Linked DNA regions of Homo sapiens: all the other regions are linked to region 2. Evidence: fine-mapped expression QTL. A gene starts in region 2. Each other region holds a variant in brackets. All regions are shown on one strand. Distances are between the middles of the regions. Region 1 overlaps FCGR2B (Fc gamma receptor IIb). Region 2 holds the start of FCRLA (Fc receptor like A). Region 3 has its middle 13 kb from the start of FCGR2B.

Region 1 (5,887 bases), 26 kb before region 2:
CTCCCTTCCTCCCTTTCTCACTCACTCTCTCTTTCTTTTTAATGCCATGGAGTACCATATTTTTCAAAGTTCCAACAAAGATGCACTACATTTAGACAATGTGGAAATGGCCCTCAGCCTTCTCTCCCTGAAGTCTGTGGCCAGCAAAAATCTGGACTTTACTTCACTCTGATGCTGAACACCCCCCTCCCCCACCTCTTCCCCAATATCTCAGATCCCAAGCCTCCCTGGTTTGCTTCTAGGAAAGCTCAGCAATTCCCTGAAAAGAATGCAGCTCAAGTGACTGCTCCACTTTTTCACCTTGGCCTTTGCGGAAGGCTGTGGCTGGGCTACCCTATGCATCGATCAATGAGGTCATATTTACCCAGTGCTTGGCCTAGAGGCCCAAGACAGGGTCAGCAGTGCTTGCTTTGGCTCTAGTTTGGGCGTTGGTTTTGCAGCCTCAGCATCAGCACAGGCAGGCCCTCTTCTCCAGCAGTGCTCTGGCTGATATTTCTTCTTTTTCCCACAGCCAATCCCACTAATCCTGATGAGGCTGACAAAGTTGGGGTGAGTGATCCCAGCCATCTCCCCCTCCCTTCTCCCCTGTTGCCTTTTCTGTTGCCTTCTTTCCTAGGCCCTCTCTGTGGATCCTTACTGCTGGTTTCTGCCTTCTCTAGGCTGAGAACACAATCACCTATTCACTTCTCATGCACCCGGATGCTCTGGAAGAGCCTGATGACCAGAACCGTATTTAGTCTCCATTGTCTTGCATTGGGATTTGAGAAGAAAATCAGAGAGGGAAGATCTGGTATTTCCTGGCCTAAATTCCCCTTGGGGAGGACAGGGAGATGCTGCAGTTCCAAAAGAGAAGGTTTCTTCCAGAGTCATCTACCTGAGTCCTGAAGCTCCCTGTCCTGAAAGCCACAGACAATATGGTCCCAAATAACCGACTGCACCTTCTGTGCTTCAGCTCTTCTTGACATCAAGGCTCTTCCGTTCCACATCCACACAGCCAATCCAATTAATCAAACCACTGTTATTAACAGATAATAGCAACTTGGGAAATGCTTATGTTACAGGTTACGTGAGAACAATCATGTAAATCTATATGATTTCAGAAATGTTAAAATAGACTAACCTCTACCAGCACATTAAAAGTGATTGTTTCTGGGTGATAAAATTATTGATGATTTTTATTTTCTTTATTTTTCTATAAAGATCATATATTACTTTTATAATAAAACATTATAAAAACAACATTCTGTTTACCTTTTCAAGGCTGTATTGGTTGGAGTGTAGACTGAACTGCCTGGGGTCTGTTTCTCTTCAGTGATGAGACTCTTAGGAAGGCAGGAATGGATAGGATAGGGGGAGGAGAGGAGAGATGGGGATTTAGAATGTAGAGTGAGTGCCCCTTTTCTTAAAACTGAATACAGTCACGCACCACATAATGATGTTTAGTTCAACAACAGACTGCATATATGATGGTGATCCCATAAAATTATAATACCATATTTCTATTGTACCTTTTCTATTCCTATGTTTAGATATATGAGTACTTACCATTGTGTTACAATTGCCTAAAGTATTCAGTACAGTAGCATGCTGTACAGGTTTGTAGCCTAGGGGCAATAGGCTATACGCTACAGCCTAGGTGTGTAGTAGGCCACACCATTTAGGTTTGTATAAGTACCTGCTATGATGTTCACACAACAAAATTGCCTGCATTTCTCAAAATGTATCCCCATATTTCAACAATGCATGACTGTACTCTTCTGCCAATGACCTTGTATTCTTGTTTCCATGTCTTCTTCTCTTTCCTCCTATGGCAAATAAAACACTGTTTTGCAACACAAGTTCACGGGAAGTCAAACTTCAGATGAGCCCTGAGTGGAGATTGCTGACATGTCCTGCTCTGCTATTCTCCCAATGTAGTTACCAGAAGGATGTGACCTTCTCAGAGAAGTCATCTCAGGCAGATTAGAAACATGACTGGCAGTCTCCTTGAGGGTTTGGTGAGTGCCCTTGGAGAGGCTTCATTTTCCTGGGACTCTACGCAGTAACATCGTGCAACATTTGTTGCACTTTTTATGGTAGGATAAAAAGTACTCACTTTTTATGGTCCCACAATCAGATTTCATACACACTTATTGTTTTAGTAATAAGGGATAATAATTAAAATTACTGCGTTATTAAGGACTTACTTTGTGCCATATAGTTTGTGCCAAACTATATGCTTTAGAATTTAGAGAATTTACGATTAGCCTTTTATATTTCCTCTTTTGTGAGTTTCCTGTGTATTTATTCTTTGCCCATTTTTGTAGATACAATGTATGTCCCTTTATTTATAAATTGCATAGTAGTAACTTATTTCCTTTTATTTATATGTAAATTATTTCACTACACTAATAATGTATTCTTTTTATAAAATTAAGATACAGATAGGGAAAACAAAAAAATTAGATCGCCCATAAATCCATAAACCAGAAATAATTAATGCTAACATTTAAGGATATCAATCCATATTCCTGTCTGTGGCAGTGTGTATTTGTGTTTTAAAAATTGGATCTAATCCCAGCTACTCGAGAGGCTGAGACAGGAGAATCGCTTGAACCTGGGAAGCAGAGGTTGCAGCGAGCTGAGATC[G/C]CACCATTGCACTTCAGCCTGGGCAACAAGAGTGAAACTCTGTCTCAAAAAAAAAAAAAAATTGGATCATATCATATATTTTACATGTTAATAAATACACTCAGGCAAAAATGTATGCTCATTGTAAGCATGTAAGCCCAAATAATACAGAAAGATAAGGAGTAAAAAGTAGAAGTTCCATTTTGTCATCAGTTCCCTCTATCCTCTTCCCTTTTCTTTCTTTCTTTTTTTTTTTTTTTTAAGAGATAGGGTTGTAGTCCAGGCTGGAGTGCAGTGGCAGGATCACAGCTCATTGCAGCCTCAAACTCCTGGGCTCAAGTGGTCTTCCCACCTCAGCCTTCCTAGTAGCTGGGACTACCACACCTGGCTAATTTTTAAGAATTTTTTGGCCGGGCATGGTGGCTCACGCCTGTAATCCCAGCACTTTGGGAGGCCGAGGCGGGTGGATCATGATGTCAGGAGATCGAGACCATCCTGGCTAACACAGTGGAACCCCGTCTCTACTAAAAAAAATACAAAAAAAAAAAAATTAGCTGGGCTTGGTGGCGGGTGCCTGTATCCCAGCTACTCGGGAGGCTGAGGCAGGAGAAGGCGTGAACCCGGGAGGCAGAGCTTGTAGTGAGCCAAGATTGCACCACTGCACTCCAGCCTGGGCGACAGAGACTCCGTCTCAAAAAAAAAAAAAAAAAAAAGAACTTTTTGGCTGGGCGCGGTGGCTCATGCCTGTAATCCCAGCACTTTGGGAGGCAAAGGTGGGTGGATCACCTGAGGTCAGGAGTTCAAGACCAGCCTGGCTAAAACGGTGAAGCTCCATCTCTGCTGAAAATACAAAAATTAGCTGGGTGTGGTGGCTCATGACTGTTTAGTCCCAGCTACTTGGGAAGCTGAGGCACGAGAATTGCTTGAACCTGGGAGGCGAAGGTTGCAGTGAGCCGAGATCATGCCATTGCACTCCAGCCTGGGGAACAGAGAGAGACTCGGTCTCAAAAAAAAAAAAAATAGTTTGTAGAGACGGGGTTTTGCTATGTTGTCTAGGCTGATCTCAAACTGTGAGCCTCAGGCGATCCTCCCCACTTAGCCTCCCAAAGTGGTGGGATTACAGGTGTGAGCCACGGTGCCTGGCCCTGACATGCTACCTAAAGTCTGAAACTTGACTCCTGATCCCCAGGGTCAGTTTCTTTACTGATAGTTTTTCAATAAGCCATTTAGATAGTTGGCATGATTACGTAGCCAGAGGGGGCATAAAAATCCCTCTAGGAACTTCTGCTTTGAGCTCTCCCATAGCCAAGATTCCTTGTATGGATCCCGGTGGTTTAATCCAGACAAAAAGCGTAAATAAGTTACGGTAACTATAAGGATGCTAGGGAGCTTGCACATGGAATCTCTTGGACTCCCAGTAATTGCCTAGACTTTCTTTCTCTTGCTATACTTTTAAATAAGCACTTTGTTTGAGCATGCTCGGTAGAGTTTGATGAGTTCTTTCAAATATCCTCTTCAGGAAGGACATCCCTGACTGCACTTCCCCTACTGCTATTCCTCTGCTCTTATTTCCTTCATGGTATCTATCACTGTATGTAATCATGCATTTTTTTGCTTAAATATTTACTTACAAGTTCTAAAATGTAAGCTCACTCTGGGCAGGATGTTTGTATTATTCACTGGTGTATTCCAGAGACTAGAACAATGCAATCACTATTTATTGAATGAGTTAACGAATGAAATAATATTATATTTATCTAAAACTCTTAAATGCTTTAAATAGATCTTTACTATATTTGGAACTTATTTTTGGACTTGGTGTAAGGTGAGAACCTAATATAATTTTTCCATATGAAAGTCAGTTGTTCCAATATCATTTGTTGAACAGTTTAATAATTTGAAATCCTAATTTATCACCTAAATTCCCACTCATAGGTCTATTTTTAGCCTCTCTTCTATTACATTGTTCTATTTGTCTATTTCTGCATCAATACCACATTTTTAGTTATTGCAACTTTATAGTGTACTTTGATATATAGAAGGTCAAGTTTTCTCTCATTCTTTTGTTTCAAGGTTTTCTTGGCTACTAATGTGCTGCTTCTCTTCCAGATGTACTTAAGAATTCCATAACACTATTATGATATTGGTAGAATTGCATTGCATTTATAGATTATTTGGGTAAGGTTTGACATCTGTGTCATATTGAGGCTTCCTAAGTTACAACTCTTCATTCATTCAGACTTACAGAATTTTCCTATAATATCATATGAGCTTGGCACATTTTTTTGTGACAGATCTTTGACAGACTTTTCTTTCTGTCATTTTTGGTCTGGTTATGATTTTCTCTCTCTCGGGAGTCAATTTTGAAAACTTTTGCTTTCCTAGGAATCATCCATTTTATTGGTATGCAGTGGTACATCGCACTTTTCCCCTATTTTTTGGTAATAAGTTGTGTGTTTGTGTTTATGTCCCTCCTCTCATTCCTAGGTTTTGGGTTTTCTTTCTTTTATCAGTTAGGATGACTTCAGTTGGAAATAACAGGAAATCGTGATTCAAATTGGCTTAAACATTAAGGAAATGTATTATCTCACATAACAAAAAGTCCAGAGACAGACAGTTTCTAGCACATCAGAACTCTTGGTCCACTTTTCTACAATTCTGTGAGCACTGCCCTTGAGCTAGCAGCAAGATGATTATAACGGTTCTAAGCAGCATCATACCCAGACCACTATAGAAAGAAAGGGACTAACTATTCCTTTTATGTGTAGCCTTTTTTTTTTTTTTTTTTTTTTTTGAGACAGAGTTGCAGTGGCGCAATTTCCATTTACTGCAATCTCTGCCTTCTGGGTTCAAGCAATTTTCCTGCCTCAGCCTCCTGAATAGCTGGGATTAAGGCATGCGCCACCACACCCAGATAATTTTTGTATTTTTTAGTAGAGACCAGCCAGGCTGGTCTCAAACTCCTGACCTCAGGTGATCCACCTGCCTCGGCCTCCCAAAGTGCTGGGATTATAGGCGTGAGCCACTGTGCCTGGCCTTGTGTCTCTTTTTGACAATGAGGAACATTTTCTCAGAAGTTCTGCAACCATCTTCCCATCATATCATATTGGTCACGACTGGGTCACATGCTCATTCTTAAAACCATCACGAGAAAGGGGACTGAGATGACCATAATTCACTTAGCTTAATCATTTGGAGAGTCACCCATCCTGACACTATCTCTTTGTTCATCCTAATCAGACTTACCAAAGGTTTGCTTTATTAGTCTTGTATCAGCTTT
Region 2 (7,569 bases):
TTTTTTTAAAAAACCTCAACTCAATAAGAAAACAACCCAGTTTTTAAACACTGGCAAAAGATTTGAATTGATTCTACCCCAAAATATATATGCAGTTAGTAAATAAATACATGAAAAAATAAACATCCTTATTCATTAGAGAAATGCAAATTAAAACCAATGAGCTGTAGGAAACACCAGTTAGAATTGCTAAAAGTAAAAAGACTGACCATACCAAGCATCATTGAGGCTGTCTAGCAACTGGAGCTCTCATACACTGCTGGTGGGATTGTAAAATGGTTCAACCATTGTAATGGTTAACTATGTGTCAACATGACTGGATTAAGAGACGCTCAGACTGCTGGTAAAACACTATGTCTGGCTGTGTCTGTGAGAATGTTTACGGAAGAGGGCTGGGCGCAGTGGCTCACGCCTGTGATCCTGGCACTTTGGGAGGCCAAGGCAGATGGATCACCTGAGGTCAGCAGTTCGAGACCAGCCTGGCCAACATGGTGAAACCCTGTCTCTACTGAAAAGTACAAAAATTAGCCAGGGTTGGTGGCGGGCGCCTTCAATCCCGGCTACTTGGGTGGCTGAAGCAGGAGAATTGCTTGAACCCAGGAGGTGGAAGTTGCAGTGAGCCGAGATCACGGCTTTGCACTCCAGCCTGGGTGACAGAGTGAGACTCTGTCTGGGAAAAAAAAAAAAAAAAAAAAAAAGGAATATTTATGGAAGAGATTAGCATTTGAATTGGAAGAGTGAATAAAGATCTGTCCTCACAAATGCATGTGGGCATGATCCCACCACTCAGGGCCTGAATAAAACAAAAAGATGGAGATAGGGCAAATTTGATCTCTCTGATTGAGCTGGGACATTAACTGCCCTCAGACACCAGCCCTCTTGGTTCTGAGTCTTCAGACTTGGACTGAGACTTATTGACTCCACTGATTGTCAGGCCTTTGGACTTGAACTGAATTACACCATTGGTTTTGTTGGTTCTCCAGCTTGTTGATAGCAGAGGGTGGGATTTGTCTGCCTCTAAAATTGCCTGAGTCAATTCCTGTGTTTCCTTGTATGCATATATTAATTCTGTTTCTCTGAAGAGCCCTGGCTAATACAACCAATTTGGAAAACAGCTTGGCATTTTCTTAAAAAATTAAATATTTTTAATTTTTAAAGAAAAATTAAATTACCTACATAAAATTTAAAAAACTACCTAAAAATACACCTACACCTATATGATCCAGCCAGTCCACTGCTAGGTACCCAAGATAAATGAAAGCCTGTGTCCATACAACTTGTACATGAAAGTTTATAGTACCTTTATTTGTAGTAGCCGTAACTGGAAGCATCCCAAATATCAAACAATAGGTGAATGGATAAACAAAGTGTGGTACAGTCATGTAGTGGAATATTACTCTGCAATAAAATGGAAAGAACTGTTGATAGACACAACAACATGGACTAATCTGAAAATAATTATACTGAATGAAAGAAGACAGACAAAAAGAGCACATGCTGTATGATTTCATCTATGTAAAATCTCAGTAAACTATAGAAAACTTATCATGACACAAAACAGATTAGTGGTTGCCTGGAGAAGGTGGATAGAGAGGAAGGGATTACAAAAGTGCACAAGTAAATTTTCAGGAGTAATTCATCTGCTTATTATCTTGATTGTGGTCATGTTTTCATAGGTACACACTTTTGTTAAAATTCATCAAATTGTACAATTTAAAGATGTGCATTTAGCGTATGTCATTATTTCTCAATAAAGTGATTTTACAAACACAAAATGAAAAGACAAGCCATAAATTGAAAAATATTTGTAACAAATATGACTGACAAAAAATTTATGTTTAGGACATATACAATCTCTTAAAAGTCAATAAGAAAATTCCATTCATATATGTACCTTCGAGAAACTCTTATAATAACAAATTATGTACATGAATAGATGCATGGTTTTTGACAGCAAAAACCTGAAAATAACTCACATGTCCATTGTCAATAGAATAATTTGTGACATGATCACATGATGAAATACTTCACAGCAATACAATTAGTTAACTATAGCTACACAGAACATCAGGTTGTATTTCAGTTGAGTTAAACGAAAGCAAGTTGGCTGGGCAAGGTGGCTCACCCCTGTAATCCCAGCACTTTGGGAAGCCGAGGCAGGTGGATCATGAGGTCAGGAGTTCGAGACCAGCCTGGCCAATATGGTGAAACCCCGTCTCTACTAAAAATACAAAAGTTAGCCGGGTGTGGTGGCACACGCCTGTAGTCCCAGCTACTCAGCTACTCGGGAGGCTGAGGCAGAAGAGTCGCTTAAACCCGGGAGGTGGAGGTTTCAGTGAGCTGAGATCAAACATACTGCACTCACTCAACAGAGTGAGACTCCATCTCAAAAAAAAAAAATAGAGAAAGCCTTAGAATGATAAATACAGTACAATTCCACTTACTAAAAGTTCAAAAATACAAAATGATTACTACATAAAATAAAGAGAGTGATAAATATAAGGTAAAGATTGTGGTTGATGATGGTGGGGAGGGAAGACAGTGTAATCGGACAGGGATCTATGCAGTACTTCAAGGATAACAGTACTAGTCTGTTCCTTCAACCATATAAGGTTTCAAAAGTATACACTGCATTATTTTTTACACCTTCACATTTTTAATAAATATTTTTATCTACTCAATTAAAAATAAAGAAGAGATAAGCATTAGTCCACTAGTGACAAGCCAGGAATGGCAAAGGAGGGCATCCACCACCTAATTGGTCTTGGGATGGGATGAGAGCTGGGATTTGTCCCATCTCCCCCTGAGTATTCTGAGGTGATCCTGATGGAGGAACTTACTCAATAAACCGAATCTCAGTCTCCATGAACAAACAGCAGACCCAATGTTGCTTTTTCCTCGCAGTGAATCACATCTATTCTAAATAGTTCATTGATTAAGCTTCAAGCGAGTAAATTTTCCCAGCAGCTTAATGGAAATTTCAGTGTAAAGAACTTGATAGCTTCACCCCAAATCTTCAGAAGGCCCCTTGCCTTCCATATTGACAGTGGGGTCCTGCAAGGATTGCTGCAGATGGTATAGGGGAGGGTCTCTATCCAGGTAAGATGCTATGGTAAGGACAGTAAAGGAGAAAGGGTGACATAAGAAGAGAAAGATATCATGATTTGTTTAGAAGCCCCTTAGCCTCTGCCTAACCCTGAGGGTCTATGTTTTATGTAGTTTTAGGAGTGGCGATGCATCTAAACACATTTTATTTGTTTAATTCGTACACCTGTAATCCAGCACTTTGGGAGGCCGAGGTGGGCAGATCACGAGGTCAGAAGATCAAGACCATCCTGGCTAACAGGGTGAAACCCCATCTCTACTAAAAATTCAAAAAATTAGCCGGGCGTGATGGCACGCTCCTGTAGTCTCAGCTACTCGGGAGGCTGAGGCAGGAGAATGGCTTGAACCCTGGAGGCAGAGGTTGCAGTGAGCCGAGATCGCGCTACTGCACTCAAGCCTGGGCAACAGAGACTCCATCTCAAAAAAAAAAAAAAATTATTAAGGCTAGCTAGGCTTTTCTTCCTCTTCTGAGGCTTCACATCACATCAGCTGCAAGGCTTACTGCCTCACTGCCTTCCCCAGCACCCATATTCAACCACCCCTGGACTCCCTGGGGCCACCTGCACAGAAGCGTATGCCTCTCGATAATGGAAATTTTATTCTAAATGCTTATTTTAGACTCAGAAAGATCCACTCTCTTATGCCCGTGTGGTTGATATGTCTGCTCTGACCTGTGGTTTTTGCACAGTTGAAGGGTCATACTGTCCCTCTCTCTGCCTTCAAGGAGGACCAAACTACCTTCCCCCATTTCTCTCTCTCTCTTTTTTTTTTTTTTTGTGAGATGGAGTCTCGCTCTGTCACCCACACTAGAGTGCAGTGGTGCAATCTTGGCTCACTGCAACTTCTGCCTCCTGGGTTCAAATGATACTCATGCCTCAGCCTCTGAAGTAACTGGGACTACAGCCATGCACCACCATGCCCATCTAATTTTTTTTTTTTTTTTTCAGTAGAGATGGGGTTTCACCATACTGGCCAGGCTGGTCTTGAACTCCTGACCTCCAGTCCAGTGATCCGCCCACCCTGGCCTCCCAAAGTGCTGGGATTACAGAGGCATGAGCCACAGTGCCTGGCCTACCTTACCCCATTTCTGATGGCTCATTTCATCTCCAAATAACCTACTGGAGGCCTGGTGGGTGTTATGATGACAGAAAGGGGAGGAATGTGGCCACTGTGAAAAGACACATGGGCCCTACCATTAAGTAGGCCTCAAACAAATAGCAAACATTCAGAGGCAGGGACAATGGTTCCCAGGAGGCCATCTGGAACGGAAGGGAGAGGCTGTAGCCTCTATATTGCTCCTATTCCTGAGTCTCCTCAGGTTTCTCAAGATATCGGATGCCTCCTATCTCTAATTTCCTCAGGATCAGTGGCCTGAGCTTTGGCTATGAGCCTAAGCCCTGAGCTGACTGCTGGATCCTCTGGGAATAGATTTTCTTTTTCCTCTACTCTTTCCCAGTGGATTCTCCCTGCCTTGTACTCATATTTCCACTGAGACTGAGCAGACTTAGTCATGCTCCAGAAATAGAGAGCTGACACGAGTCTAGAGAAATTTGCATGCAAATTTGTGTGGGCTTTGGATAGTCAGAGCCTACTAGAGACTAATCTGATATCTAACTTGGTGCCGTGACTAATCTTCCTTCTCTGTCTCGCTACCTTCTAGTCACTAGAAACATATAAGTGTTGGAATGGGCAGGACATTTGAATTCTCATCATTGATTCTCCAGTGATTTTCTATTGGCCTTCAAACAACATCCCACCTTCTGTCCCCAGTTGCATCACCAGTGAAAAGGGTGGTTGTTGCACTGACCTTTCCCAGAGTGTACATGAAGGCCAGCTGGCTATCAGACAATGACATGCTTTGACAGGCCCCTGAGCTCTGTGAGTAAATTCTTGAACAGCTGAGAGTGCTACCATTTTGTCATAGCCCTAAGGGTGCAGATGATGCTGAAAGCGTGTTGGCCAAATCTGAATGATGAAAGCCAATTACAAACTAGAAAATGAAAACAGACCCCAGATGCAAGGAGATGAGACAGTTAAATTTACTTCCTCTTTTCTAATCTGAGAGGTTTCATGTTGAAGAAAATCAGTGTTGGGGTTGCAGGAGACCTAAACACAGTCACCATGAAGCTGGGCTGTGTCCTCATGGCCTGGGCCCTCTACCTTTCCCTTGGTGTGCTCTGGGTGGCCCAGATGCTACTGGGTAAGTAAAATATTTGAATATTGGTGTGGGAATGGAGCTTTGCTTACCTTGGGAGAAAGGACCAGAAGGAAAGAAACATGGACTAATTCTGGCCCTCCAAAGAAGCAGTATTCAGGTGGAATAAGAAGGGTAGGTATAAGAAAGTTTGGTGTACAGGATTGAATTACTTTCTGAATATAAAAATCTTCCATCCTGAAAGTCCCCTCTGATCATGATATCCTCTCTAGCTCTAATCTCAACTCTTTTCTTTCACTTGTGAGACAAGTTTTCTTAAAAGAATAGTTTGCACTTGCTATCTCCACTTCCTCACTTCTCACACGCTCCTCAATGCTTGCAGCCTGGCTTCCACTGGAATTGGTTTTGTCTAGGGCACAACGATCTCTATATTGACTGGGTTATGGCATGCTTTTCAGTTCATATCCTGCTGGACTTCTCTGCTGCACTGGGCTCTGTTGATCACTTACTCCTTCTTGCATTCTCTACTACCCTGGCTTCCATGGCACCATTTTCTCCTTGTACTACATGGACTTCTCTTGATCCCTTAATAGCTTCTCTTCTCTTCCCCTTAAACACTAGTGTTCTCTATAGTTATAGCCTTGCCTCTGTACTCCTCTTTCTTTACACAATCTCCTTCATGAGCTTATTTGTCTGTTTAATTTTTGCCACTATAACTCTGTATTTAAGAGTCCCAAATCATATCCCCAACCCTAACCATGCTTTTGAGCTTCACATTCAAATATCAAGCTTCATACCAGACATATCTACCTACATATCTCACAAGTGTCTCTGCACCATGTGACTAGAGTTGAACTTATCTGTCCTTTTGGCCCCTGCCTCATCTAATTCATTTTCCACTTTCTGATCTCAGCTAATGACACCAGCATCTACCCTTACAAGGCCATAAACCTCAGAAACAACCCAGACTCTTCCTTCTTTTTCATTCTCTAAATCTGATCAATCATTAGGTTTGGCCAATTTTACCTTCTAAATTGTTCATAGAAGCAGTCCCTTGCCTGGATCATCACTAATGTCTTAGGACAAGCCCTCATCCTCTATGACTTGGGCTATTCCAGTAAATTCCTAACTAATCTCCTCGTCCAAACCTTGTGTTCTTGAAATGAATTCTGTACCCTGCAGACAGAGTAATTTCTAAAACTCAAGTTTACCAGCCCAAATTCTTTATCATGGCACAAAAGGCCAAGCAGCCTCTACTTTTACCCTCTCAGCCTTGTAACTTATGCTCTAATAAATCTCAATCAGTTCATATTTACATACTCACACACCAGACTCTTGCCTGTCTCTAAGGCTTTGCTTATACCACTATCTCTACCTGAAATGAGTTCTTTCCATGGCACCCTACTCTCCTTCTCCTTGCAAATGTGTAGGTACCCCTAAAGACTCAGCTTAAATGGTATCTTTTCCAGGTAGCTTTTCTTGAATGCTTCTTTCTGCTCCAATGGCTGCTTGCGATACATTTTTCTTATTATAATATTTTCCTACTTATGCTGAAATAATATTTTCATCTACCTGTGTCTTCCACTAAATTGAGAGCTATTTGTGGGTAGTGACAATGTTTTTTTGTTTTTGTCTTGTGATAAGAACTGCAGACTTGGAATCAGATACTCCTGTTTCAAGCCCCTCTTCTATTTACCAGCTCTATGTCACTTTAGAAAATCACTTTTTCTATTTCTGGTTCAGTTTTCTCATTTGTAGAATGAAAATAATAATACCTACCACCTAAGGTTTATTGAGTGAGTTCCCAGTAACCCAACAAGATTTTATTTTATTTTATTTTATGTTTTGAGACAGGGTCTCGCTCTGCCACCCAGGCTGGAGTGCAGTGGTGCAATCACTGCTCACTGCAACCTTGACCTCTTGGGCTTAAGCAATCGTCCTATCTCAGCCTCCCAAGTAGCTGGGACCACAGGCAAGTGCCACCAGGCCTGGCCAATTTTTTAAAAAATTATTTGTTGAGACAGGGTCTCTCTATGTTCCCCAGGCTGGTCTCAAACTCCTGGGCTCAAGGGATCCTCCCACCTCAACCTCCCAAAGTGCTGTGATTATAAGCATGAGCCACCACGCCTGGATAAGATTTTATTTTTAAAAAGAAAAAATGGAGAGGAGGCAGAGCACAGATGAGTGACAGTGGAGGAACTGAAAAGAGGTAGCATTACAGTGAAGGGAGCGGAGAAAGGATGGAAAGAAAACACCTGGTACTGATGTGATGAGAATTAGGAAGTAGGGAGGGGTCTTGGTAAGGGACA
Region 3 (10,605 bases), 56 kb before region 2:
AGGTCATTTTCCCAGAAGCAAAATTACAATGTCATAAGTATATGAATTTCCAAGGTTTTGATAGTTTTTCCAAATCTCTTTCCAAAACAATTGTTTTAATTTCTACCCTATTCAGAAATATATGCAAGTTCATTTAATCACGTCCTTTTTTCTTAATTGTGGGCAATTTCATAGCTGAGAAATGGGGTCTCATAATTTTTATTTGCATTTATTTGATTACTAGTGTGGAGTCAACATTTACCATGTGTCTGTCAACCAGTTGCATTTCCTCTTTCATGTTGCTATTAGATGGAAAGCACTTAGCACCATGTCTGGCCCTCTTGGATATTTATTTTTTGTTTAACTAAATGTTTTTGGGTTTCTCTATTGATATCCCTGCCTTTGCCTATTTATCAAAACTCTATGTTCTTCTCATTAATTTCTTATGTAATAAAAATACCCCTTTGCAGGGAGACATGAATTTTTACACATTTTTTTTTCCAGTTTGCAGTTAGTAGTTTGTTTTTGGTTGGTTTTAGTTTTGTATCATTCCGAAATTTAAAAGTTTCATGAAGTTCTTTTCTTTTCTTTCTTTCTTTTTTTGTTTTTTTCTGAGACAGAGTCTCATTCTGTTGCCCAGGCTGGAGTGCAGTGGCATGATCTCCGCTCGCTGCAACCTTTGACTCACCTCCTGGGTTCAAGTGAGCACGTTAGGCTAATTTTTGTATTTTCAGTAGGGACAGGGTTTCACCGTGTTGGCCAGCTGGTCTCGAACTTCTGACCTCATGTGATCCACCTGCCTCGGCCTCCCAAAGTGCTAGGATTACAGGCATGAGCCATCACGCCTGGTCTCTTTTCTTTCCTTCTTTTTTTTTTTTTCCTCTATTTTTTCCTAAGCTTAGAAATCTTTCTTCCTTCAGAGAATTTACTCAAGATTCAATTCTATTATCCTCTTGTGTATCCATAGCTTGATTCATGTGTTTCACTCTATGATCCTTATGAAACAGATTTGCTTGTATTCTGAGAGGAGCTGTCTGCTTAACAACTTGCCTGGCTCGAGGGGCTTACTAATGCCTTTTAGCTCCCTGCTTTTTGACTCTCTTTACAACTCTCCTTAGAACCCAACAAAAAGAGATATAAAATAAGTGACATAAAAATGTGAAGTGCTTAAACCATTTATTTTACATTGCTGACTTTTTTCCATGTATCTTTCCTTTCTGATTAGTACTTAAAATCAAGGCAGAAGCACCTTAAAGATAGAAATGGCTAAATATTCTTGAACCTTTCAATCGTAGGATGCCAGAACAGGCCTCTAGCGTAGAAAATGTCTATACTGAGATCAAAGAGTCTCCCCTAGAGCAGAGTTTGTTGTATTCTGAGTATGAGGAGAGTAGGACAGTGTGATGAAGCTGCAGTGGAGTAAATGGTTTTTGGTATCACAGTGCTTTACAGAACACATTAAGGAGTTTGGGTTTTGTCGTGAGGGTGTGGGGAGCCACTGAATTATTTGAAGCAGGAAAGTGACATAATATAATTTGTACTTTAACAAAATTACTCTGGTTGCTGCTTGTAAATAGGCTGGAGGAGTAAGACTGGGAGCAGAAAGATGAGTTGGTCTCTTGCGGTAGTCATGGTGGCAGATGAAGATAGCCTCAGGCTAAGGTAATGGTGGTGGGGTTGAGATATTTAGCAAGAAGAACCGGCACAATTGGATGTGGGTTATGAAAGAGAATGTGGGAATCACAATGATATCCAGATTCCTGCTTTAGGAGGTGCCATTCCCTGAGGTGGGGAATATGATGGAAAGAAGCTTAGCTGGAAGGGGTTGGGGAGAGATGGTAAGTTCAGGTTTGGATATTCTGCGTTTGAGGTGCCTGTGGACATAGCAGGAGAGTGGTCAATATCAGCTGGGTAACTGGAAGGAGAAATCTGGGCTAGAGCTAGAGACACAGACTGGAGCTGAATTGTGCTTTTAGAAAATTAACTGGAAGCCAAAGAGATGACTCCTTATTTGCTGATACCTTGCAGCAGGTCTATTTCCAGTGACAAGGAGGCAAGTTTGAATTGGTTAGAGCCTCATTCACAGTTCTTCAAATGTTCTTGTCAAGTATTTACTTGCTACTAAGGAGGATGGCTTCAACCTTCCCCAGGACCATTTTCCAGCATCCTTCAGCATGTTTGGCTTAGGACCAAGTTCCCACCCTCCTGAATTTTACCCTTGCTGGAGACACATGCACTTGATACAGTTAAAGGGCAAAACAGGCCTGATGGGGAGGTTCCAACGCATTTGCGTTGCAGACCGTAGGTGTTAGAATCTAACTCCTAGTTTTCTACTACAACTTCAAATGCCACCCTCCTCACTAAGGGTCTAAAGCCAGAGTGCGGATGAATGAATCAAGCCTTTCTTTCTGAGTACCACTGTCTGAAGTCATGCTGAGGTCAAGAGACATTCAATCAGAAGAGCAGACCAAGTGGCTTAAGGTAAGTGCAGCCCCGGGTTCTCTTTGCTCTGGACTCTTTTTTTTTTTTTTTTTTTTGAGATTGAGTCTCGCTCTTGTCACCCAGGCTGGAGTGCAGTAGTGTGATTTCGGCTCACTGCAACCCCCGCCTGCCGGGTTCAAGCAATTCTCCTGCCTCAGCCTCCTGAGTAGCTGGGACTACAGGCACCCACCAGCATGCCCGTCTAATTTTTGTACTTTTAGTAGGGACAGGGTTTTGCCATGTTGGCCAGGCTGGTCTTGAACTCCTGACCTCAGGTGATTCCCCCCACCGCCTCGGCCTCCTAAAGTGCTAGCATTAGAGGTGTGAGCCACTGTGCCCGGCCTGCTCTGGACTCTTAATTTCACTCCCCTAGACCATTAGTTGGCTGTTTCTTGCATTAAACCACTCAGATCTCTCTTTCATTTCCTTGTAAACTGGATTCCTTCGTCCTGCAGAAGAGATGTATATTGTCCACTTTTGTTTCAACAGAGGGCAGTAGAGAACAGCAAACAGTTTACATTTCTAAGCCCAGAAGAAATAAAACAAATCCATTTACAACATTCTCCTCAGGTCAAGGTACCCAAAATATGGCACACTGTGCTTCGTGTGTTCATAAATGGGGCATGTCCTTGTGAAAGTAGGGCAGATCCCGGAGAGTCAGCGACTCGTAGACGACCCTTCGTCTTGTGAACAACAGTTTAGCTATGTGTAACTCATGGAAGGCTTTATGGAGAAGGAGTTTGATCTTGAAGGATAAGTATGAGTTGGGAAGATAGCTTTGTTCACAGAAAGCAGCATGGGCTCAAACATGGCAATAGCATGGCAAGCTTGGGGAAGTTAAGAATAGGATTGGGCAGAATCTGACAAGACCGCAATATACCTCAAGACTCTAGGTGCTGGAATCTTCAGTATGGCACATAGCATCCTGTGCCGTGGGGCAGCTGTGATATTACATACACTCTCAGATGCTATGTGCCATCCCGAAGTGTTTGAATGTCACTTTGAAGGGTTTAATATCATCCTGAAAGCAATGTAAAATCATTGAAGAATTTTGAGTAGGGTGGTGATCTAACCTATTAGGCAATTTGAGATTTTCTTGTTTGTTTTTAATTGAGGTATATCATGGTCTTGTTAATCTTTTAAACTTTAGCCACCCAGGTGGGTATACAGTGATATTGTGTTTTTAATGTGCGTTTCCCTGATAAGTAGTGACTTATTATCTTTTTATGTGCTTATTTGGTCATTTGGATATCCTTTTTTATGATGTTTCTGTTTAAGGCTTTTGCACACTTACGAATTAGCTTATCTTCTCATTGATTTTTAATAGTTTTTTATGTATTTTAGATATGTCTTTTGTCAAATATACCTATTACAAATATTCCTCCTACTCTGTGGCTTTCCTACTAACTTTTCAAATGATGTCTTAATTTTTTCTTTCTTTTTTTTGAGGCAGAGTTTTGCTCTGTCGCCCAGGCTGGAGTACAGTGGCGCAAGCTTGGCTCATTGTAACCTCTATGTTCCAGGTTCAAGTGATTCTCATGCCTCAGCCTCCAGAGTAGATGGGACTACAGGCACACACCAGCATGCCTGACTAATTTTTTAATTTTTATTTAATAGAGATGGAATTTCATCATGTTTGTCAGGCTGGAACTTTTTTTAATATTATATTTCAATAATGATTATACCAAAAATATATTTTGTATTATTTGAGAAAATCTGTAATGTATATTTGGGAGATTAATGAATACAGTTATGAAGGTCACTGAAGCATGACTCTTCTAAAACAAGTTAATAATGCATTCTACAGAAAACCTTTTAGACATTACAACCTCTAACCTAAAAAATGGAACTCTAAATACCTTTTCACCATCTCAGTAGTAATTTCTGACACATCACTTTCAGAAGGCTCATAAGCCAACTCAGATACAACCGTAATATTAATGAGGAAAGCAGTTAGTGTCAAAGGAAGAGGATTGAAAGTAGAAGTGTTATGAAACTCCTCTTTTACTTTTTTGCATGCTATCAAAATCACTGCCAATAATATGAATGTCAGGTCAATTTCCATAGGTAAATCCGTTACCTTTTACCTCTTTAAAAGAAAAGTTTTGCAGAAGAGGGCTGAAAATTTCTTGAGCCATTTCAGCACAAAGAATGGAAGTTCATTTCTCACCATGATACAACTCTACCCTGCTGTCATCTTCATTGTGATGGTGGCAGAAGTTTAGCAGGGTGCAAGTGACCACTAAATGACATCTTTTCATGAACAATTGATAAATCTTTTTGAAAACCCTATGAAAGATGAATTGGAACGGAGCAAGACTGAGGCAGGATGACTAGTTAAAGGCTTGTTTCAGCCCTTCTGCCATTAAAGGACACGGAAGCTACCATCTAAGAAGCAGAGAGCGACCTCTCACCAAAGAGTCTGCTGGCACCTTGATCTTGCACTTCGCAGCTTCTAGAGCTATAAGAAATAAACTTGTGTTGTTTATAACTAGGAGGCCGTTGTACTATTATTATTCCTATTTTATGGTTGAGAAAACCAAGGCATGGGGAAATTAAATGACTTGCCTGAAGGTTTTCTACTGCTAGTAATTGGCAAGAGGAAAAGAAACGTGCAAGAACTTTATTGATTGGATGGGAATGGTAGATACATTAATTTGAAGGATTTTGTCTTAGTAGATCTTAGAGAAAGAAGAGTACATTTGGGAGAAATAAGTGAATTTTGTTTTAGAAAAAAAAATATGCGTATGTGTGTTTTATTTTTTAGACAGAGTCTCACTCTGTTGCCCAAGCTGGAGTGCAGTGGCATGATCTCTGTTCACTGCACCCTCCATCTCTCAGGTTCAAGTGATTCTCCTGCTTCAGCCTCCTGAGTTGCTGGGACTACACGCCACCATGCCTGGCTAATTTTTGTATTTTTAGTAGAGATGGGGTTTTGCCAAGTTGGCCAGGCTGGTCTCAAACTCCTGACATCCTTGGCCTCCCATAGTTCTGGGATTACAGGCATGAGCCACTGTGCCCTGCCAAAAAAAAGTTT[T/A]GAAGTGGAAATGCCTAGTAGGTAGCTATCATTATATTATATATATTATATATGATAAATATATTAATGTATCTTTCTAGAGTTAAGTAGAAAAGTGTTGGCCGGAGATAAAGACTGAGGAGTCATCAGCATATAGGGAGTGAAGCAAGGCTCTCATTCTCAGCATTATTGACACAGGGGGCCAGATAATTCTTTGTTGTGGGGGGCTATGCTCTCCACTGGAGGACATTTAGCAGCTTTCTTGGCCTCCACTCAATAGATGCCAGGGGAAGCCCTCTCCAGTTGTAATAGCCAAAAGTGTCTCCAAACATTGGCAAATGTCCCCTGGGAGCGGGGGGCAAAACCAACTCTGTTGAGAACCACTGGTGTAGAGGAAGCCAAGAATGTAGATAAAATCATTTAGAAGTAGTAAGACATATGCAGGATCACGTTTCTTAGCCCTTTAAAGTTCATTTTCAACCTCTTTGAACATAAACATACTTTGTTTAATTTTATCTTAATTTTCATATCTAGTTTGTCAAGTTTACAAGTATTAAATTGTATTATAATGCTAAAAAGGCTTTTAAAATTACACCTCTACCTCTCCTTCCCCCTCCAGTTCTGATGCACCCTTTGAGGGGGTCTCTTCTCACTTAGAAAATTATTGATAGAGAATTATGTAGAGGACAGAAAGCTGAACAAACACCAATATTTAATGGACAGGTGAAGACAGAGGAGTGTTCAGGGAGAGTAAGGGGAGTCATCAGAGGGACACCAGGAGGGGAACCCTGGTAAGTCGTGATGAAACAGATGGTGAATGACTTCAGAGTATTTTGGCCCTGCAAACTGCAAGGGTACATCGTAAAAGACTGCATAGTGCCCCTGGGGTTCATAAATCACTTCTTAGAGAAGTGAGAGAATTCTGAGTTCTCCCTGGGCTTAGAGTAAAAAAGGCATTTCCAGTGATAGGGCCCAATGCAACATTTAGGACAACTCGGGGAAGAAAACTTTGAGATTCAGAAAGAAAAATGACTTCTTCTGCCAAGGGAGAGATAAGGAAAACTGCAGATGAGGAGATGGCCTGAGGTTTTGGTCTTGAAGGGAAGATCAGAAAACAAGGTCTGGGTTCCCGTTTATTTTGGAAGCAAAGTATTATCGTGCATTAGAAACTAGGCTCTGTACTCTTCTTTTGCTTATCTTCATATCTTAGAAAACTTTTCTTTTAAAATCTTCCAGCCAGTTTAGTTGGCCAAGAGAAAGATTTAGATATTTTGACATTTCCGCCAATATAACTTCTGATTATCTCCTTTGTGGCTGGCTAGAGTGGTGGCACTGGCATCCTAGCTCTCCAATCAAAATTTTTAAAATAAAGATCTGGCCGGGCGCAGTGGCTCACACCTGTAATCCTGGCACTTTGGGAGGCCGAGGGGGGTGGATCACCTGAGGTCGGGAGTTGAGACCAGTCTGACAACATGGAGAAACCCCATCTCTACTAAAAACACAAAATTAGCCAGTCGTGATGGCGCATGCCTGTAATCCCAGCTAATTGGGAGGGTGAGGCAGGAGAATTGCTTGAACCCAGGAGGCAGAGGTTGTGGTGAGCTGAGATTGTGCCATTGCACTCCAGCCTGGGCAACAAGAGCGAAACTCCATCTCAAAAACTGAAATAAAATAAAATAAAATAAAATAAAATAAAATAAAGATCTATGGGCATTTTAATAATGCTCTATCTGTGATTTTCAGCAGTTTAAATATGATATGTTTAGGAGTGTGTGTGTGTGTGTGTGTGTGTGTGTGTGTGTGTGTGTGTGTATTTTAGTCTGCCTATGCTTCTTTGTCCTTCTTGGATCTGTGGTTTAATAACTTCCATTATTTTTGAAAAATTGTTGGCCATTTTCTCTTTAAATGTTTCTTCTCTCCCATTCTTTCTCTATTCTCTGGGATTTCAATTACATATATGTTAGGCCAGTTTACATTGTCCCACAGTTCTTGGGTGTTCTGTTCTATTTTCTTTTTTTTTACTCCTTGAATTTAAGTTTGGGTAATTTCTATGAACCCATTTTCAAAGTACTGATTTTTTTTTTTCTCAGCTGTATGGCATCTACTGATGACCCTGTCAAATACATTCCTCTTCTCTTTTACTCTGTTTCAAAATTTGCTAACATTTCCATTTGACTCTTCATATAGTTTCTATCTTTCTGCTGAAATTCCCCATCTGTTTATGTATGTTGTCTACCTTTTCCACTAGAGCCTTTAACATGTTAAGTATGGTTGTAATTAATGGTTTGATTTTAAAATTCCCTATTTGATAGTACCAACATCTGAATCATCTTTTAGCAGTTTCTATTGCTTGCATTGTCTGTTGACAGGATTTTTAAACCTTGCTTTTCTGTGTTGGCTCATTGTTTTTATTGAATTCTGGACATTATATGTAGGACAGTAGGGACTGAGGTAAATTGCATTTATGATTGGAAATGAGCACCCCTCTTATTCTGGTAAGCTCTTAGTGTGGGCCAATCTAGTCAAGAGTTGAGCTGGGTTCGGGTTTTATTATTGCCATAGTTACCTTCAAATTCTTCTAGTGTTATCTTGTGCTTGGGTGGAGGCAGCATTTCAGTAGACCAAGAGACACCGGTATTCCCGGATGGTATTTTCTCAATTTTCCTGCACTACCCCAACTTTAGGACTTTCTAAAGTATGTGCCTGCACCTCAGAGATTCTCTCTTCAGTGGCAGAGTACTTTTGCTTCTTATTCAGTACTTGCTAGGCTGGGAGGTAGGGCAGAGGTTTATCTGTTGTGAAATTGCCTTTGCAGAATATATATATAAATAAGGAGAGAAATCTGGCTGGGCGTGGTGGCTCATGTTTGTAATCCCAGCACTTTGGGAAGCTGAGGCAGGTGGATCACCTGAGGTCAGAAGTTCGAGACCAGCCTGGCCAAGATGGTGAAATCCAGTGTCTACTAAAAATACAAAATTAGCTGGGCATGGTGGCAGGCACCTGTAATCCCAGTTACTTGGGAGGCTGAGGCAGGTGGAGAATTGCTTGAACCAGGGAGGCAGAGTTTGCAGTGAGCCAAGATCCCACCACTGCACTCCAGCCTGGGTGACAGAGCAAGACTCCATCTCAATAAATAAATAAATAAATAAATAAAAATAAAAAATAAACGAATAAAGAGAGAAATCTAACATGACTGACTCCATCCTGCTTCTAACCCACAGGCGAGTTTTTTTTTTCTTATTCTAGCATGGAGGTCAAAATAGCTATGAGTGACGTTTATAGTTAAACTTTGAGTCAAGGGAAACTGATCTCCCTCCTTGTTCAAGATTGAAACTGCATTCATAAGACAAGGTTAAAATACGGTAGGGACTTTAACTTTGCTGAAGAATAGACTCAGTTAAACAATGACCTGCCATTGCTTAGTGTGTCTTCCTCACTTCCTTGCTTTCCATGTGTCCTTACAGTAGCATGTTGCTTACTGCACCAGAGTCACGTAACCGGGGATTGCAAAATTTATAACTTCCCCAACTACTCCTATAGATAACATCACTATTGTGAACCCTGAAGAACGAGTCTTCGAGGTATTTTTCAGATTCAACATTTCAGTAGACCAAGAGACGCCACTAGGTCCTGAGATCCACCCACTCCTGGGAACTGACTTGGCTGCGTGAAGACAGCTTTAGACACCCCTGTAATTTCATCCCCAGCCAATCGATTGTTCCAGTTTCCAAGCCTCCTGCCCACCAAAGTACCCATGAAAAACCTTAGTCTCTGAATTGTCAGGGAGATGTGTTTGAGAAATTGCTGCTTGCTCTCTTCACATGGCTGGCCCTGTGATTATTAAACTCTTTCTTTGCTGCAATAGCCGCTGTTCTTATTGATTTTTTCAGGGCAGTGGCTAAGAAGAACGTGTGGGGCTGTGACAGCTGTTCTAGTCCCGCCTCAGTTTTAGTCGGGCCTTCTGTCCCTGGATCTTGAGGACAGGGCTTTTTCAGTGATCCTAGATCTCACCCAATGGTAGAAGACCTGTAATCATCTAGGCTCGGGATGGTTTCCAGCCCCTTCCCCAAGGGTAGAGAGATGTTTGTTTTTTGTTGTTGTTGTTGTTGTTTTTTCCTGTTCCTTTCCTCCAGGTGTAATGGGCTCTTTTCCTGTGCCCTGGGCCCTTCTTCCAGTGATTTAAGACATTTGTTCCTTAGAAAAAAGGATTCAGGTGGGCTTCATGCCTTTCCCAGAATGATGGCTGCTCCATTACCTAGGTATGTATTCCCTGGCCACAAGCTTTTCATGAGCTCTGGTGGAGGCCCATGAAGATGCTTCAAATGCGTAGGAATGGCCCTTGTATCATGAGCTCTCAGTTCTTGGCCACATCTGGCTTTCAGCGATTTATTAAAAATTTTAGCTGAATTCTTCTAACCCATTTGAATGGTAGCCCTGCCTTCCTTCCACGCTGTCTTACAGGTGAGCCTGTGCTCATATCCTAGCCCTCTTTAGAAACACCTGTCTTTTCTTAGATTTCAGGGTATTTGGTTGCCTCACTACCTCAGCACTCTGATGGGTTCAAGAAAAGTTATCACTTTGTGTATTATCTGTTTTTTTTCAGGTGTTTCTAATTAATACAGGTTTTTTTGGGGGGTGTTTCTAATGAAAACATTTTAATGAGGCTGGTTTTCACAGCTGTTTTTATACCACAAATCAAAATGGCCAAGTCCAAAATGAAAAATCACCAGAATGGCAGGGCATAATGAATTTAAGCACAGAAATTAGATGAAGTTATCTGTTTCTCACATGACTTGATAATCTAAAAAGCAGAAAGTAAAATGGTATGTTTTAAAAGTTATCATCAAAAGTGTCCTTGAGGTCGGCACTGACTGTGTCCTGATGGCCATGCAGGCAGGAGTTGTGCTATGTAGGTAGGCTCTGCTATTTGCTCTTCACACCTCTGGTTAGTTTACAATCTCTCCTTGTTCTAAGTTTTCACCAAAGCCTGATACTGGCTTTTGTTTCCCTTGAGGCTATGTTGTTTCTCATATAAACATGATTTCCATTTTATGACTGTCCTAACCCTTCATGGTGCAAGCCTGTTTCTCTGAGCTACTATATTCTTCATATATTTATGTTATTACTTC

What was found. PIP is the estimated chance that this variant, and not a neighbour inherited with it, causes the effect.
Region 1: its variant is fine-mapped to the expression of FCRLA in whole blood (TOPMed, PIP 0.90).
Region 3: its variant is fine-mapped to the expression of FCRLA in whole blood (TOPMed, PIP 0.96).

Annotation. Positions count from the first base shown.
Region 1 is chr1:161,676,817-161,682,703 of GRCh38, forward strand. FCGR2B (Fc gamma receptor IIb) reads left to right here. Exons shown (of 8, transcript NM_001394477.1): 7 at 512-549; 8 at 660-1,838. The coding sequence ends at 737. Among named protein-coding and RNA genes, the nearest start is that of FCGR2B, 17 kb to the left of the region's middle. The variant G/C (reference allele first, on the strand shown) is at 2,629.
Region 2 is chr1:161,702,039-161,709,607 of GRCh38, forward strand. FCRLA (Fc receptor like A) reads left to right here and starts at 5,191. Exons shown (of 5, transcript NM_032738.4): 1 at 5,191-5,305. The coding sequence starts at 5,227. RefSeq lists enhancers at 3,727-3,946, 5,487-5,666.
Region 3 is chr1:161,644,802-161,655,406 of GRCh38, forward strand. It overlaps a transcript of FCGR2B not described here. Among named protein-coding and RNA genes, the nearest start is that of FCGR2B, 13 kb to the right of the region's middle. RefSeq lists a silencer at 2,634-2,693. The variant T/A (reference allele first, on the strand shown) is at 5,498.